2 separate regions of the Homo sapiens genome follow, and region 2 is linked to region 1. The links come from fine-mapping of genetic effects on gene expression. Tissue or cell type: thyroid. Region 1 holds a variant in brackets; the other region holds the start of a gene. All regions are shown on one strand. Distances are between the middles of the regions.

Region 1 (8,112 bases):
AAGCCTCTCCTGCAGTATCTGGAAAGCGGGGTGATGTGAGAACCTGCTCCCCAGGGCCCCGGGGAGAATGCCTGGAGCTGCCCAGGCGAAGTCCACACAATTACCCTCAATCCACACTAGTGCGTGAGTTTCCTGTTGGTGCTGTCACAAATCACCACAAGCTTGGTGGCTCAAAACAACACAGATTTATCCTTACACACTTCTGGAGAGCAGAGGGCTGAAATGAGTTTCCTTATACACTTCTGGAGAGCAGAGGGCTGAAATGAGTTTCCTTATACACTTCTGGAGACCAGAGGGCCGAAATGAGTTTCTCTGGGCTAAAATCAAGCTGTCAGCAGGGCTGGTTTCTTCTGGAGGCCCTGAGAGGAGAATCTATTTCCTGGCCTTTTCAACTTCTAATGGCCACCTGTATTCCTTGGCTGTGGCCCCTTCCTTCATCTTCCAAGTGCATCACTCCAATCTCTCCTTCCATCATCACATCATCTTCTCTCCACCTTAGTCAAATCTCCCTTTGCCGTCCTCTTATAAGGACACCTGTGATTGCATTTAGGGCCCCCACATATAATCCAAGATATTCTCCACATCTCCAGATCCTTCATTTAATCATGTCTGTAAGGTTCCTTTTTGCCATAGAAGGTAACATTCAAAGGTCCTGGGATTAGAACCTGGATACCTCTGGGACCATTATTCAACCTAATTATTATTATTATTTTTTTTTGAGACGGAGTCTCGCTCTGTCACCCAGGCTGGAGTGCAGTGGCGCAATCTCGGCTCACTGCAAGCTCCGCCTCCCGGGTTCACGACATTCTCCTGCCTCAGCCTCCCGAGTAGCTGGGACTACAGGCACCCACCACCACGCCCGGCTAATTTTTTTTGTATTTTTAGTAGAGACGGGGTTTCACCATGTTAGCCAGGATGGTCTCAATCTCCTGACCTCATGATCCACCCGCCTCAGCCTCCCAAAGTGCTGGGATTACAGGCGTGAGCCACCACGCCTGGCCCTACTACCCTAATTATTATGATGATTGTTGTCATTAGCCAGTGACCTCTTCATGGAACTTGGGCATTAAGATGAGTTAAAGACACATGAGGAGAGGCATAGAGGAGTCTCAGGGCAGAGAGGGAGAAAAGGGGGGCATTTTATTTACTCCTTTAGTCAACCATATGTCTTCAGAGACTGCTGTGTGCCAGGCAACAATCTAGCAGTTAACACAGACAAAACTGTGGCCCTCCTGGAGCCCCGTTAGAGAGGGGCATCTTCCATTTTTACTGTCTCTTCCTTCTGTCCCTCCCACAACCCCAAAAAAGTGGAGGGAAGTAAGGTAAGAGACCTAGGATGTACTGAGCCCCAGCTGGGTCACTTACAGCCTCTGACAAAAACCTGGCCCTGACCTCAGCTCCAGGCTTCCCTGGCAGGGCCCACCTGGCAATTAGTCAGACTTGAATCTCCTTGAAGCAAATGAAAATATAGAAAGTCTCAGCAAAGAAACAGAAGATATAATAAGGAAGAGCCAATGGGAGTTTTAGAACTGAAAAATACAATAACTGAGATGGAAAACTGAGTGAATGGGCTTAACAGCAGAATAAAGAAGGCAGAGGAAAAAAATCTATGAACTGGAAGATGGAACAATAGAAATTATACAATCTGAACAACAGGGAGAAAATAGACTGAAACGGCTGGGCGCGGTGGCTCGTGCTTGTAATCCCAGCACTTTGGGAGGCTGAGGCAGGCAGATCATGAGGTCAGGAGATCGAGACCATCCTGGCTAACACGGTGAAACCCCATCTCTACTAAAAATACAAAAAATTAGCCAAGCGTGGTGTCGGGCACCTGTAGTCCCAACTACTTGGGAGGCTGAGGGAAGACAATCACTTGAACCAAAGAGGTGGAGGTTACAGTGAGCCGAGATCGCACCACTGCACTCCAGCCTAGGCCATGGAGTGAGACTCTGTCTCAAAAAAAAAAAAAAAGAAAGAAAGAAAATAGACTGAAACATATTTTCAGGGACCTGTGGGATTATAACCAAAGATCCCACACTCATGTCATCACAGTCTGTGGAGGAGAGGAAAAAGAGGGCAGGACTGAAAAAGTACTCAAAGAAATAATGGCTAGAAAGTTCCCAGAGTTGGAAAAAACATAAACCTACAGATTCAAGAAGCTGAATGATCCCCAAAAGGAAAAACTAAAGAAACCCCTACCAAGACCCATTGTAGTCAAACTTCTGAAAACTGAAGGAAAAGAAACAAATCTTGAAGCCAAGTGCAGTGGCTCATACCTGTAATCTCAGCACTTTGGGAGGCTGAGGCAGGTGGTTTGGTTGAGGCCAGGAATTCGAGACCAGCCTGACCAACCAGCCTGACCAACATGGCGAAACCTCGTCTCTACTACAAATACAAAATTTAGCCAGCTGTGGTGGCACATGCCTATAATCCCAGCTACTTGGGTGGCTGAGGCACAAGAATTGCTTTAACCTGGAAGGCAAAGATTGCAGTGAGCCAAGATTGTGCCACTGCACTCCAGCCTGGGTGACAGAGCAAGACTCTGTCTCAAAGAAAAAAAATAATTAAAAAATAAATTTTTTTTTAAATATTAAAAACACTGAGAGAGAAATGACACTTTACCCATAGGGGGAAAACACTCTGAATCATGTCAAATTTCTCATCAGAAACCAAGAGGCCAGAAGACAGTGGCACATTTTTCAATTGCCAAAAGAACTGTCAAGCCAGAATCCTATATACGGTGAAAACATCCTTCAGGAATTAACTATAGATAAATCAAAATAGAATTCTAAAAGCTGTTCAGGTAAACCACAGGAAGACAAGAAAAATAAAACAGAGAACAAAACACAGAACAAAAAGAAAACAAAAAAATAGACAAAAAGGCAGACTTAAGTCCTAACATACTAATAATTACATTAAATGTAAATGGTCTAAATACACCAAGTAAAAGAAATTGACAAAGTCGATTTTTTAAAATGATCCAACTATAGGCTATCTACAAGAAACTCACTTCACTATAATGATAGAGACATTTTGATAAGTAAAAAAAGAAGAAAAGATATAGCATGCTAATATTAATTAGAGGAAAGCAAGAGTAGCAATATTAATTTCAGATAAAGCACACTTTAGGAGAAAGAAAATTACCAGAAACAAAGAAGGACATTATACAGTAATAATAGGGTCAGTCCCCCAAGATATAGCAATCCTAACTATGTATCCACCAAACATCAGAGCTACAAAATTCATTAAGCAAAAGCTGATCAAACTGAAAGGAGAAATAACTAATCTACAATTACAATTGAAGATGTCAACACCCTTCTCTGAACAATTGATAGAACAACTAGACAGAAAATCAGCAAAGACAAAGAACTCAACAATATCATCAAACAACAGGAATCTAATCAACATTTACAGAACACTCCATACAAGTGCAGTAGAACACACATTTTTTAAAATTGCCCCCAGAATATAGACCAAAATATACCATCTCCTGAGCCATAAAACAAGCTGAAACAAATTGAAAGTAACTGAAATCATAACACACTATGTTCTTCAACCACAGTGGGATTAAATTATAATCGGTAGCATCAGACAACAGAAAACTCTTGAAACATTTAGAAATTAAATGACACACTTGTAAATAATCCATGGGTCAAAGAGGCTCATGGAAAATTTAAAAAATAATTGAACTGACTGAAAATACAATCAAATTTGTAGGACAGCTAAAGCAGGAC[T/C]CAGAGGAAATCTTATAGCACCAAATGCATACATTAGAAAAAAGGGGAAGTGTCAAATCAATAATCTAAGTTCCTACATCAAGAATCTAGAAAAAGAGGAGCAAAATAAACTCAAAGCCAGCAGCAGGATGGAAATAAGAGCAGAAATCAATGAACCCGTAAGCAGAAAAACAATAAAGTTAATCAAAGGGCTGGTTCTTTGAAAAGAACAATAAAATTGCTGCCATCTAGCAAAGAACCTCTTGACAAAGAAAAGGAAAAGACACAAATTACTGATACAGTAGTCCCCCCTTATCTGTAGTTACCCTCAGTCAACCGTGGTCTGAACATACTAAATGGAAAATTCCAGAAATAATTCATAAGTTTTGAATTGTGCACCATTCTGAGTAGTGTGATGAAATCACACGTCATCCCACTGGGTTCCTCCTGGGACATGATTCATCCCTTTGCCCGGCATTTGTGCTGTGTTTATGCTGCCTATCAGTCACTTAGTGGCCACCTCAGCTATCAGATCAACTGTCAGTGTCACTGTGCTTGTGTCCAGGTAACCCTCATTTTACTTCTTTTTTTTTTTGAGACAGAGTCTCGCTCTGTCACCCAGGCTGGAGTGCAGTGGCACGATCTCGGCTCACTGCAGCCTCTGCCTCCCAGGTTCAAGCGATTCTCCTCCCTCAGCCACCCAAGTCACTGGGATTACAGGCGTGAGCCACCACGCCCAGCTAATTTTTGTATTTTTAGTAGAGACGGGGTTTCACCATGTTGGTCAGGCTGGTCTCGAACTCCTGACCTCAAGTGATCCACCAGCCTCAGCCTCCCAAAGTGCTAGGATTACAGGTGTGAGCCACCGCGCCCAGCCTATTTTACTTCTTTTTTTTTTTTTGAGACAGAGTCTTGCTCTGTCACCCAGGATGGAGTGCAGTGGCGCAGTCGCGGCTCACTGCAACCTCCGCCTCCCGGGTTCACACCATTCTCCTGCCTCAGCCTCCCGAGTAGCTGGGACTACAGGCGCCCGCCACCACACTTGGCTAATTTTTTGTATTTTTAGTAGAGACGGGGTTTCACCGTGTTAGCCAGGATGGTCTCCATCTCCTGACCTCGTGATCTGCCCACCTCCGCCTCCCAAAGTGCTGGGATGACAGGCGTGAGCCACCGCGCCTGGCAAAGTACCTGAGCAGTGATGCAGGCAGTTCAGATATGGCAAAGGGAAGCTGTAAAGTGCTTCCGTTAAATGATGAGGTGAAAGTTCTCAAGGGAAAAAATTGTATGCTGAGATTACTAAGATCTACAGTAAGAACAAACTTATCCATGAAATTCTGAAGAAAGAAAAATAAATTCTTGCTAGTTTTGCTGTTGCATCTCAAACTGCAGAAGTGCCTGATGAGTGCTTAGTTAAGATGGAAAAGGGATCCAAGACAAGTATATACAGGATTCCGTACTATCTGCAGTTTCAGGCAGCCACCAGGGGACTTAGAATGTATCCCCCACAGATAATAGGGGACTACTGTACCAGGAGTAAAACAGGATATCACTAACGACTACAGACATTGAAAAGATAATAAGGGAATACGACAAACAACTCCACACACACGAATTTAACAATTTAAATGAAATGAACTAATTCCTTAAAAAGCACAAATTACCACAACTTGACATAAAATAGATAATTTGAATAGCCCTGTGACTATTAAATAAATTGAATTTATAATTTTAAAACTCCCAAAAATGAAGTCTACAGGCTCAAATGGTTACACTGGAGACTTCTACCAAATGCTTAAAGAATTAACACCAATTCTCCACAATCTCTTCCAGAAAGTGGCAGAGGAGGGAGCCTCCTGATGAAGCCAGTTGTCTTAGTCAGTTTGAGCTGCCGTAACAAAATACCTTAGACTGGGTAATTCATAAACAACAGACATTTTCTTACCACTGAGTTTATATATATATATCTACAGTTTCAGAGGCCAGAAATCCAAGATCAAGGCAGATTCTGTGTCTGGTGAGGGCTGCTCTCTGCTTCTAAGGTGGAGCCTTCTTGCTGTGTCCTCGCATGGCAGAAGGGGCAAATGCTGTGTCCTCATTTGGCAGATGGGCAAAAAGGGGCCAGACTGGCTCCCTCCAGCCCTTTCATAAGGGCACTAATCCCATCCATGAGGGTGGAACCTCATGGCCTAATCGCCTCCTCCAGACCCCACCTGTTAGTTAACACTGTTGCATTCGGGATTATGTTTCAACATGAATTTTTCAGGGCACAAACATTCAAACCCTGGCACCAGTATTACCCTGATACTAAAACCAAAGACAGTACCAAAAAAAGAAAATACAGGCCAATATCCCTCATGAATATAGACACAAGAATCCTTAACAAAATAAGCAAATAGAGTTCAGCAATATGTAAAAATAATTATACGTCATGACTAAGTGGGTTCATTCCAAGGATGCAAAGCTGTTCAATATTTGAAATTCAATCAGTGTGATTCACTATACTAAACAGCTAAAGAAGAAAAGACACATGATTATATTAATCAATGCAGAAAAGGCATTTGACAAATTTCTACACGCATTTATGGTAAAAACTCTCAGAAACTAGTAATAGAAGGGAATTTATCAGCATGACAAGTTGCATCCACAGAAACGCTTCTGCAAACATTATATTTAACAGCAGAAGATTTAATGCTTTCCTCGTAAGACCAATAACAATGAAAGGATGTTCACTCTTCCCCACTCTTAGTCATCATAGTAATGGAAGAACTAGTTAGTGCGATAAGGCAAGAACAGGAAGTAACACACAAATCAGAAAGAAAAATTAACACTGTCCCTATTTGCAGATGATGAGGAAAAAAAATCCCAAAGAATCTACAAAAACCCCTAGAACTAATAAGGGAGTTCAGCAAGGTTGCAGGATACAAGACACACATGCAAAAATCAACCATGTTTCTACGTATGAGCAATAAACATGTGCACGCTGAAACTAAAATGATAATACCATTTACAGTCACTCACATGAAATATGTAGGTGGAAATGGAACAGAACACGCACAGGACGTGTACGCTAAAAGTTAATGCTGATGTGCCGGGTGCGGTGGCTCACGCCTGTAATCTCAGCACTCTGGGAGGCCGAGGCGGGCGGATCACAAGGTCAGGAGATCGAGACCATCCTGGCTAACACGGTGAAACCCCATCTCTACTAAAAATACAAAACATTAGCCGGGCGTGGTGGTGGGTACCTGTAGTCCCAGCCACTCGGGAGGGTGAGGCAGGAGAATGGTGTGAACCCGGGAGGCAGAGCTTGCAGTGAGCCGAGATCGCGCCACTGCACTCCAGCCTGGGCGACAGAGCGAGACTTCTGTCTCAAAAAAAAGTTAATGCTGATGAAAGAAATCAAGAAAGATGTAGATAAATGGAGACATAGGATGTTCTCGAACGCAAAGACTGCATAGCAAAGGTATTAATTCTCCTCCCAGAATTTAAGTACAGGTTTAATGCAATTCCTACCCAAATCCCAGCAAGACTCTTTGTAAGATAGAGACGAGATTCTCCTAAAATTTGTATCGGAAGTCAAAGGAACTAGAATTGCTAAAACAATCTTGAAAAGGATTCGTGGGAGGAATGAGTCTGCTTGATGTTAAGGCTGATATGATAGCGCTATGGTCGTTAAGACAGCACAGTATTAGGGGAGGGATGGACGCATGAATCAATGGGACAGAATAGAGAACCCAGAAAGAGACCCACGCAAATATACCAGGTGATTTTTGACAAAAACAAAACAAAACAAAACAAAACCCAATGGAGGAAAGCTAGCCCTCCAACAAACAGTGCCGGAGCATCCGGACATCCACAGACCAAAACATGAACCCCAGCCCAAGCCTCACACCTTATACAAATAATTAGCTCAGCATGGATCACAGACTAAAATGTAAAATGTAAACCTATACAGCTTTTAGCAGGGAAAAGCAAGAGATAACCCTCAGAATATAGGGCTAGATAAAGAGTTTCTTATTCCAAATATGCCACTATGATATGGCCCAGCCATTGCATTCTTGGGCAGTTAGTTATTCCAGAGAAATAAAGACTCATGTATTTATACATCATTTGAAGTGAGTTTCACACAAAAGCAAAAGCCCTCACGCAAATGTTATAGAACTACTGTCGTTAAGACAGCACAGTATTAGGGGAGGGATGGACACATGGATCAATGGGACAGAATAGAGAACCCAGAAAGAGACCCACGCAGATATAGCAGGTGTAGAACAGGTTATTATCATCAACCATAATTGTGAAATTTCACTTCATTTTCTGTCTAGGTCTTTATTTGGCTTCTTACGAAAGTGAGAGCCCAGAGAACCAAACAGAAAAAGAAAGATGGAAAGCTCTAAGGTGAGTC
Region 2 (8,112 bases), 100 kb before region 1:
GCACACCACATGCATACGCTACACACACATGCACACAACACACACATGCACACAGCACATGCATGCACACAGCATAAAACATACACCACACACATGCACACAGCACACAGGCACACAGCATAAAACATACACCACACACATGCATACACCACACACATGCACACAGCACATAGGCACACAGTACCACACATACAGCACACCCACATGCACACAGCACACACATGCACAGCACCACACACATGCATAGAGCACAAGAATGCACATGGCACCACACACATAGGCAGAGCACACATGCACACAACACATACATACACCACGCACATGCACACAACATACATACATGCACGCAGCACCAACATGCACACAGCACACACACATGTGCATAGCAGACAACACACACATGCATATACCACACACTCATGCACACAGCATCACATATATACACACACGTGCACAAAACAGCGCTACATACACAAGCATACAACACACACACATTACACACATGTGCTGCATACACATGCATAGAACACACCACACATTCACACAAGTGCACATACACATACTGCATATACCATGCATGCACACATGTGCAAATCCATATACACACACACACCCTCTCTCTTGCTCCTCCCAGCCCAGGCTCAGTGGGTTGGCAGCCCTGGACTGTAAAGGATCATTAAATGTGGCCCCCTCCCGTGGCTGACTATAGGATGACTTCTCCTGGAGCTCTGCCCTTGCAGTAACTTTGGAGGGTTTTCACCAGACCAAGAATGGACGAGTTACGGGTCGGCTAATAAAATGCTTTGGCCAGAGCCCAAAGTTCTGTCCTCAGTGTTTCCTGATTTTATTGGTGAACTTGCTCAGCAGCCTTGCCCGGTGCCCCTTCCCTGAGTCACGTGCTGTGGCTGTGCCAAGCATCCCGGGCAGACGTACTGCAGGGCCTCACAGGCTCCTGCTCTGCGTAAGCGCCTGCAGCTGCTGGAGCCCGTGCTGTCCTTCCTTCCTCCCTGAGGACCCGCACCAGGCAGGCACCCGCAGGCCCCGCTGCCTCCAGACCTCCTCCACATGCCCCTGGCCCCACAGTCCCAGCAGGTGCTGTCTGCTGTGAAGGGGCTCCTCGCCCTCCTGGGAAAGGTACCCCATTCATCCTGCCAGGACCCCTGCCATCGCTGTCACTTCTCACACATTCTCCTATCTCCCATCATCCAGTCCTGTGGCTTCTCCCCCAGAAACAGCCCTCAGGTCTGCCCCATTCCCTGCCCCCTGCCCAGGTCTGTACTCATCAGCTCTCCCCTGCCTGCCAACTCCTCGTGGGCCTGCTGCCTGTCCCTCGTGGCCACACCCAGTGAACAAGGACTCCAGCCCCACTAACCCAGTGCTGCGTTGGTGGGGCACACTCAGGTCTCCCAGAGTCACACGTGTGCAGGATGTGCCATCCAGGCCAGGGGCAGCTACGCAGGGGCTGAAGGTGCTGGGAAAGGCCTCATGGGTGTCAGGACCCCTACATCTGGGGACAGCACCACCCCCTCCTGCTGGGGGTGCTGCTGGCAGAGCTGCAGCCACACCTGCCCCTGTGTCGACACCCAGAGGACAGGATCCAGCTCCTTGCCCACCTGGACACCCTGCCTGGCCCTGTTCCCTTCCACCTTGGCTCCAGCCTCTTTTTTGCAAAAACAATGCAAAGTCCATGCCAGCCACAGGGCCTCGCCCTTGCTATTCTCTCTGCCCACGGTGCTTTTCCCAGACCCTGTATGGCCAGTGCCTTGTCTGATGTGCCTGGAGAGGCCCTTCCTGGGCCCTCCCTTCTAAAGCAGCCCCACCGCACTCAACCACCTCCCCAGTATGGCTTCCTTCATGGCGCTCGGCGCTCTCCGAAATGATTGTTTTTACTCTTTTGTTTGTATGGTTAGTTTTCAGCCTCCCTTCTCTAAACCATGAGTTCCAGGGGGCAGGAACCCCATGTCGGGCTCTCTGCTATATTCCCAGCACCCAGCATGGTGCCCGGCACACATAGGCCCTAGGTAAGTGTCCACCCAATAGATGTCTCAGGGCAGTGGTGGGGTGAGGGGAGACTGAGTTGACGGCCCTAGGGATGGCTCACCCTCTGTCCCAATGCCCTCACTCAGGGATTAGCCCCGGGGCACGTTCTGGAGTGAGAAGTTGGGTGGGCAGGGTAGGGGCTGGGCAGGAGAGGTTCCTTGCTAGAGGGCACTCCTGGGTGGGCTATGAGGGGGCGGGAGCAGATACCTCCCAGGGCCCAGTGGTGGCACCTGCAGCCAGGGTCCCACAAAGCTGGAGGCTCAGGGCAGAACTCCACGCTGGCCGCGAGGCTCAAAAACCTTCCTGGTGTTGCATGAGCCGCGACTGCAGCTCATGCGTCTTCCTCAGCACAGGCCCAACTCTCGGCAGCGATGGGTCTGGCAGGGAGAGGACGCAGGAGACCTCAGGGGACACGGTCTTCTCCTTTGTCCCAGAGCAAAGCTCTGCCACCCTCACCCCTGTGGGACACGGAGCTGTGGCCATGAGCTAGTCCACACCCATGTTCCAGTTGCCCTGGCCTCATCCAAGCATCCCCTACCCTGCTCCCAGCAGGGCAATCATGCTTCAGTGGCCCCAGCCACTTGCTGGAGAAAGTTCTTTATCAGGGGACAGCAGCCTTTGCTCACAGAGCAAGGGTGAGCTGGGGAAAGACTGGCCTCACCACCCTGACCTGCACTTGGTTAGGAGGGCCGCTCAGTGCTGCCCAGACCCCAGAACAACACAGCTGAGTGGGTCAGCTCTTCTGAGGTGCCTCTTGCGGCCTCTCCTCCTAGACTCCTGGCTTCCTCCAGGCGACACCCTGGGACTGGACCTGAGGCTTAGGGGCATAGGGTGATAATCGGAGAAGATGCAGGGAGGGCCCAGTGCCTGCACCCTGAGGCGCATCTGTCTATCTGCTGGGAGCACACTGCTCACCCCTGACCAAGTGCCTGCCTCTGTTCCTCCTCCCTTTCCCCACACCTGACCCTTGGTCTCAGATGTCACCCTCCCTAGGGCCAGCCTCTGGCCCTGGCCCTGGCCCCAGCCCTGCTGTCTCCCTGCCTAGCTACCTGGCCCACATTCATTCTAATACATCTGTATGCCCTAGGCAGCTGCCTGCTCTCTCCAGGACTCAGTTTCCCTAACTGTTCAAGAAATGGGCTGGACTGTTGTTCTTAACCTGTCCATTCTTCCAGGAACAGCCTTCACGGAAGCTTGGAACAGCACCTTACTCCATCCTCAAAGCTGACACAGGACTAACTCTGCCTCAGCTCTAGTGAGACGACACCCAGGCCTGCTATTCCTGCTCCCTAGGTCTTTGGAAATGGCCTGAGCTCAGCTCCTCGGAGCCTGTGTGTGGCAGCCGCAGGCTGTCCTTGCAACTATCAGGCAGCTGTGCCCTCTCTGAGGTGTCAACCCAGGGCCATTCTGCCACAGAAAGACTGGGAGATAGGGGAGGCCAGTTTCTATGCACATAGGTTAAGTACCTGGATCTAGCCATTCCTCTAAGCAGTAAACCTTGGCTTTTTATGATCCACAAACCAGCTTTTTGCTCAAGCTGGTTGGGTTGAGTTTTGGGCCACATCTCATCAGGCAGGTCCTGACTAAAGCAGAGTGAGGTGAAGGCAGCTGGAACTTCCGTGTCGGGTGGGGACTTGGAGAACTTTTCTGGCTAGCTAGAGGATTGTAAATGCACCAATCAGCACTCTGTAAAAACGCACCAATCAGCACTCCGTGAAACGGACCAATCAGCAGGACATGGGTGGGGACAAATAAGGGAATAAAAGCTGCCCGCCCACCCCTCGCCAGCCAGCAACAGCGGCGACCGGCTGTGGTCTTTTTCCCTGCTGTGGAAGCTTTGTTCTCTTGCTCTTCACAAGACATTTTGCTGCTACGCACTCTTTGGGTCTGCACCACCTTTTTCTTTTCTTTTCTTTTTTTTTTTTTTTGAGATGGAGTCTTGCTCTGTCGCCCAGGCTACAGTGCAGTGGTGCAATCTCTGCTCACTGCAAGCTCCACCTCCCCGGGTTCACGCCCTTCTCCTGCCTCAGCCTCCCGAATAGCTGGGACCACAAGCGCCCACCACCAAACCTGGCTAATTTTTTTGTATTTTTAGTACAGACAGGGTTTCACCGTCGCACCACCTTTAAGAGCTGTAACACTCACTGCCAAGGTCCCTGGCTCATTCTTGAAGTCAGCCAGACCAGGAACCCAGCGGAAGGGACAAACTGCGGACACAGGAGGACAGGTGTCCTGACCTCTATGCTGGGACCAACCAGGGAACTTTTCACTGAAGACCCAGTTCAAGGAGGCCACTGGATCCTGTTAGAGCCCCTCTCCCTTTCTAAAAGTGAAATCATGCATCGCCATCCTCCCAGAACCCCGGTGTCTTCAAAGTGGTGTCCACCCTCCCTGGGGGCCACGGGAGAGCGCCGAGAAGGTTGGGGAGGGGGGGTGTCCACCCAGGGATGTCCCATTGGGGGACACAGACAACCTAGGTGGCCAGTCCAGAGAACCGGGCCGGGCCCAGTCTTGAGGAGAGAGGGTGAACTGGGTTTTGGGGCGCCAGAGGCCCACCAGGTGAGGTGTAGGCTGGGGCAGCTGGGGCGCAGAGTCCGCCAGGGTCCGCGCGCGGGAGGGCAGCGTCTGACGGCCCGAGCGGGTGGTCCTGGCGCGGGGGGCCAGCCGCCGCGGAGGCCTGAACGCAGGGCGGGACGCTTGGCTCCGCGGCCGGGGCACGGAGGGCCCTGGTGTGCAGCGCCGCCCGCGGGCTCCCGCAGCTCCACCCCCGCGCCCCGCCCGCTCCGCGCTGCCTGAGTGCCACGAGGGGGCGCAGCGCCGCGTTGCTCCGGGGCCGCCGCCAGGCGCTCGTGCGGGCTGCGCTGGGAGCCGGGCGGTCGGGCGGCGGCGGCGGCGGCGGCGGCGGCGGCGGCGGCGGCGGGCGGCGCCCCGGTCCGCGGCGCCGAGGCTCGCACCGGGAGCTGCCCATGGGCCGGGCCCGGAGTTCCGGCGCGCCGGGAGCCGGTGAGTGGTGCGCGGCCGAGGGACACCTGGCGGTGCGGGCAAGGGCGCGGGCTCGCGGGGGCTGGGGAGGGCTGCCGGCGGCGCGGCGGGGTCGGCGGGAGGCGGGAGGCTGCGCGCGGCGCGGGAGCGTGCGCCGGGGTCAGCAGGGGCGGGGTCCGCGCGGCCGCCGGGACTGGAGGCGCGGGGGTAGCGGGTAGGGTACCCTGAGGGCACACCCCCGGCCACCTGGCGGGAGACCCAGCTCTGCCGCGCGCCGCCAGCCCCTGCTGGGCGCGAGGAGCAAGCTTCTTTCAGCCGCTAGAGTGGCAGGAAGAGCCAGCCTAGACCAAAGCCTCCACCCGCACCGGACCTCAGTTTCCCCGTCTATGAAATGGGGACGGGAAAGCAGACCTGCCGGTGCACGTGCAGAAGGGAAAGGGCCTTGCGCCTGGGGGAAGAGGGTGCTGTCACCCTTGAGGATGGGATCGGATTTGAGGAAAGGACCAGCGCCACTATCAGAGGGCCTGCGAGAACAGTGGGGTCTGCTGGGAGTCCTGGGTGTGTCCCTCACGCAGTGACAGCGGACGGCATCAAGGGACCACCTGGTCCACTCATTGTATTTAGATTGGGAAAGCGATGCTTGGGGGGACTTGGGGAAGGGTGCTGGCGACGCCGCCCCATGCTCAGCGTGGGCGTGGGAAACTGTGGGAAAGACAGAGCTGGGAAGTTGGGGTGCTGGTGGAGCTCTTCCGGGCCCGTATCTCCTGCCTCCTGGGGCTGTGGGAGAGACAGAAGTTCTGAGCCCCGGGAGCCTGAGAAGAGTCCTGGGAAGCTCTGCCTGCCAGGCAGGTGGAGTAACTGAGGTTTAGAGAGGGGCGGGACCATGGAGTGGCAACGCTGGGGTCCCACCTCTGGTAAGACTGGCTCCAACAGCCATAGTGCAGCCACTGTGCAGGCGACCGGTGGAGGGGGGCTAGGGTTGTCCACTCACTGGCCACATTCATTGAGCGCCTACTGTGTGCCGCCTGCTGCCTGCCCCCGTAAGTGCTCACTAGCTGGTGTGGGAGGGGACACCAAACAAGAAATCAAAGGCAAAAGCAAGGACATGGCCAAGATCTTATGCGTGCTGGGAAGAACATGCAGTAGGGTGACTGGGGCAGAGGGAGACCAGGGCGCGGCGGAGCCTTCGTCTGGTCAGGGAGGCTGTCCTGAGCGGGGAGCCCAGCCTGTGATGGACGGGTAGCCCGGGGGAACAGCGCGGGTGAGATCCCTGAGGGCAGGAGGGGGCGGAGCTGGAGCTGAGACGCTACAGGGTCTGGACGTCCTGGGCAGCCCCCAGGCGGTTTGCAGGTTGGGCGTCGAAAGGCTGCCCGTGGCGGCGGGTGGGCGCACTGCCGGGGCAGGAGAGGGAGGGCAGGCGAGAGAGGGACGGGCTGCGGAGCCCAGGGCGGGACTGGCGAGGGGGAGCCCGCAGGCCACCAGGTAGAGGTGGGGCCCTGCCCGGGACCTGGCCCTTTTCAGGCCGGGGTCTGCACCCTCCTGCCATGTCCCCGCCAGTCTCTGAGGTGGTTCCAGCTCTCACTTGTACCTGGACCCAGATCCAGAGTCAGCCATTTGTCCAAGGGGCCTTGGTTCCTTGCGTGGGACCCGGGCTTAGTGTGGGGCGTGCACTCGCCGCCTCTAGGCCTTGTCAGTGGACCAAGCCAAGGCCCCTTTTTTACTAAAAATTAATATTTCCTTTCCCTTTCTCCTGCAGTGAGAACCTTATTCCCCCAAACATGAATATATTTCATCATTTACTTAGCTCCACAATGCACCCCGAAAGAGTTTCAGAATGACTGCATCCACACCGAAGCCAACCAAAACCTGCTAGGTCAGCATCGGGATTTCCACGGGTGTGCAGGCAGAGTGCTGTGTGGTGACGTTATCAGTCGGACACACTGTTAGCTTCGTGTGTTTCTACTTGCATTCAATTTGGAGCTTTTTTTCCTTTAGACTTTAGGATGTAATTTTATTTTTTGAATACGTAAAACACATGGTTTAAAGGTCAGAACTATTAAAAAGCTATCCTTAAAGGTCTCAGTCCCACCCCTGCATCTTCTTCCTTGTTCCCACACCATTGGGAGCCATTTAAAATATTTTCTGGTTTATCCTTCCTGTGTCTCTTTCTGCAAAACAAGTCATTTAAGCATTATCACAAAAGTTAGCCGTACAGCTCCTGGTTTTTCTTCAGTTAGAAGTATGTCCTGAAAGTAACTTCTTACCAGTTCATGGAGACCTGGCTCATTCTTTTTTACACTCACATAGTATTTCGTTCTGTGGCTGTACTATTATTGTTTATTCAAATTATGTCCTCTGGATGAACAATTTTGTTTTTTTCCAAGTCTTTTTAAATTTAAAATAATGGAGTAATGGATAACTTTGCACCTATATTGTTAATGTTTGCAAAGGTGTATATTTAGAACACACTTCTAGAAGTAGGAGTGAATGTGGATTTATTTTGTTAGCTAGTCCCAAATTCCTTGTCAAGAGGTAGCACCGTTTTGCATTCCCACCACCGATGTATCACAGTGTCTTCTGTTTCCCCACAGCCTCGCTGGTTTGAGAGCTGAGAAACAGTATTTCAGTGTATTTTAAATTTATATTTCTATTATTATAAATGAAATTGGACATCTTTTCACATAGATTTGGAATCATACTTAGACTTTTCTAACTATGAAAAGCCCAATTATAAAGCAATCATCTGTGTTTTCTAATATTTGTTTAGTTGTGTACTTAGTCTCTGCATCCAATTTAATCTTTTTCTAAGTGTCTGGCACTCTGTCCCAAAGCCATTTATTTAAAAGGTCATCTTTCCTCCAGTGATCTGAAATGCACCTTTCTCATACACTAAAAATCCAAGCCCTGGGCCTGTTTCTGGGCTTTCTAGTGTGTCTCACAGGTCTGTCTGTTCCATCTGTTCACATACTGGTGAAAGAGAGAGAGAGAGAAAAAATATATTTAAAGGCAAGGAGGGCCTGGCACAGTGGCTCACGCCTGTAATCCCAGCACTTGGGAAGGCTGAGGCAGGCAGATCACTTGAGGTCAGGA

Alleles and levels. Positions count from the first base shown, and alleles are read on the strand shown. Sizes are in standard deviations (SD) of each study's normalised expression.
For the expression in thyroid of the gene that starts at base 4,860 in region 2, T is the low allele of the variant in region 1 and C is the other (small effect, 0.29 SD a copy in GTEx).

Evidence for each region.
Region 2: RASGEF1C starts here. The variant in region 1 is fine-mapped to the expression of RASGEF1C in thyroid (GTEx, PIP above 0.99).

What each region holds. Positions count from the first base shown.
Region 1 is chr5:180,102,064-180,110,175 of GRCh38, reverse strand. RASGEF1C (RasGEF domain family member 1C) reads left to right here. Exons shown (of 14, transcript NM_175062.4): 13 at 8,033-8,105. Among named protein-coding and RNA genes, the nearest start is that of RNF130, 34 kb to the right of the region's middle. The variant T/C (reference allele first, on the strand shown) is at 3,735.
Region 2 is chr5:180,205,959-180,214,070 of GRCh38, reverse strand. RASGEF1C (RasGEF domain family member 1C) reads left to right here and starts at 4,860. Exons shown (of 14, transcript NM_175062.4): 1 at 4,860-5,043. RefSeq lists a silencer at 4,725-4,944 and an enhancer at 6,069-6,861.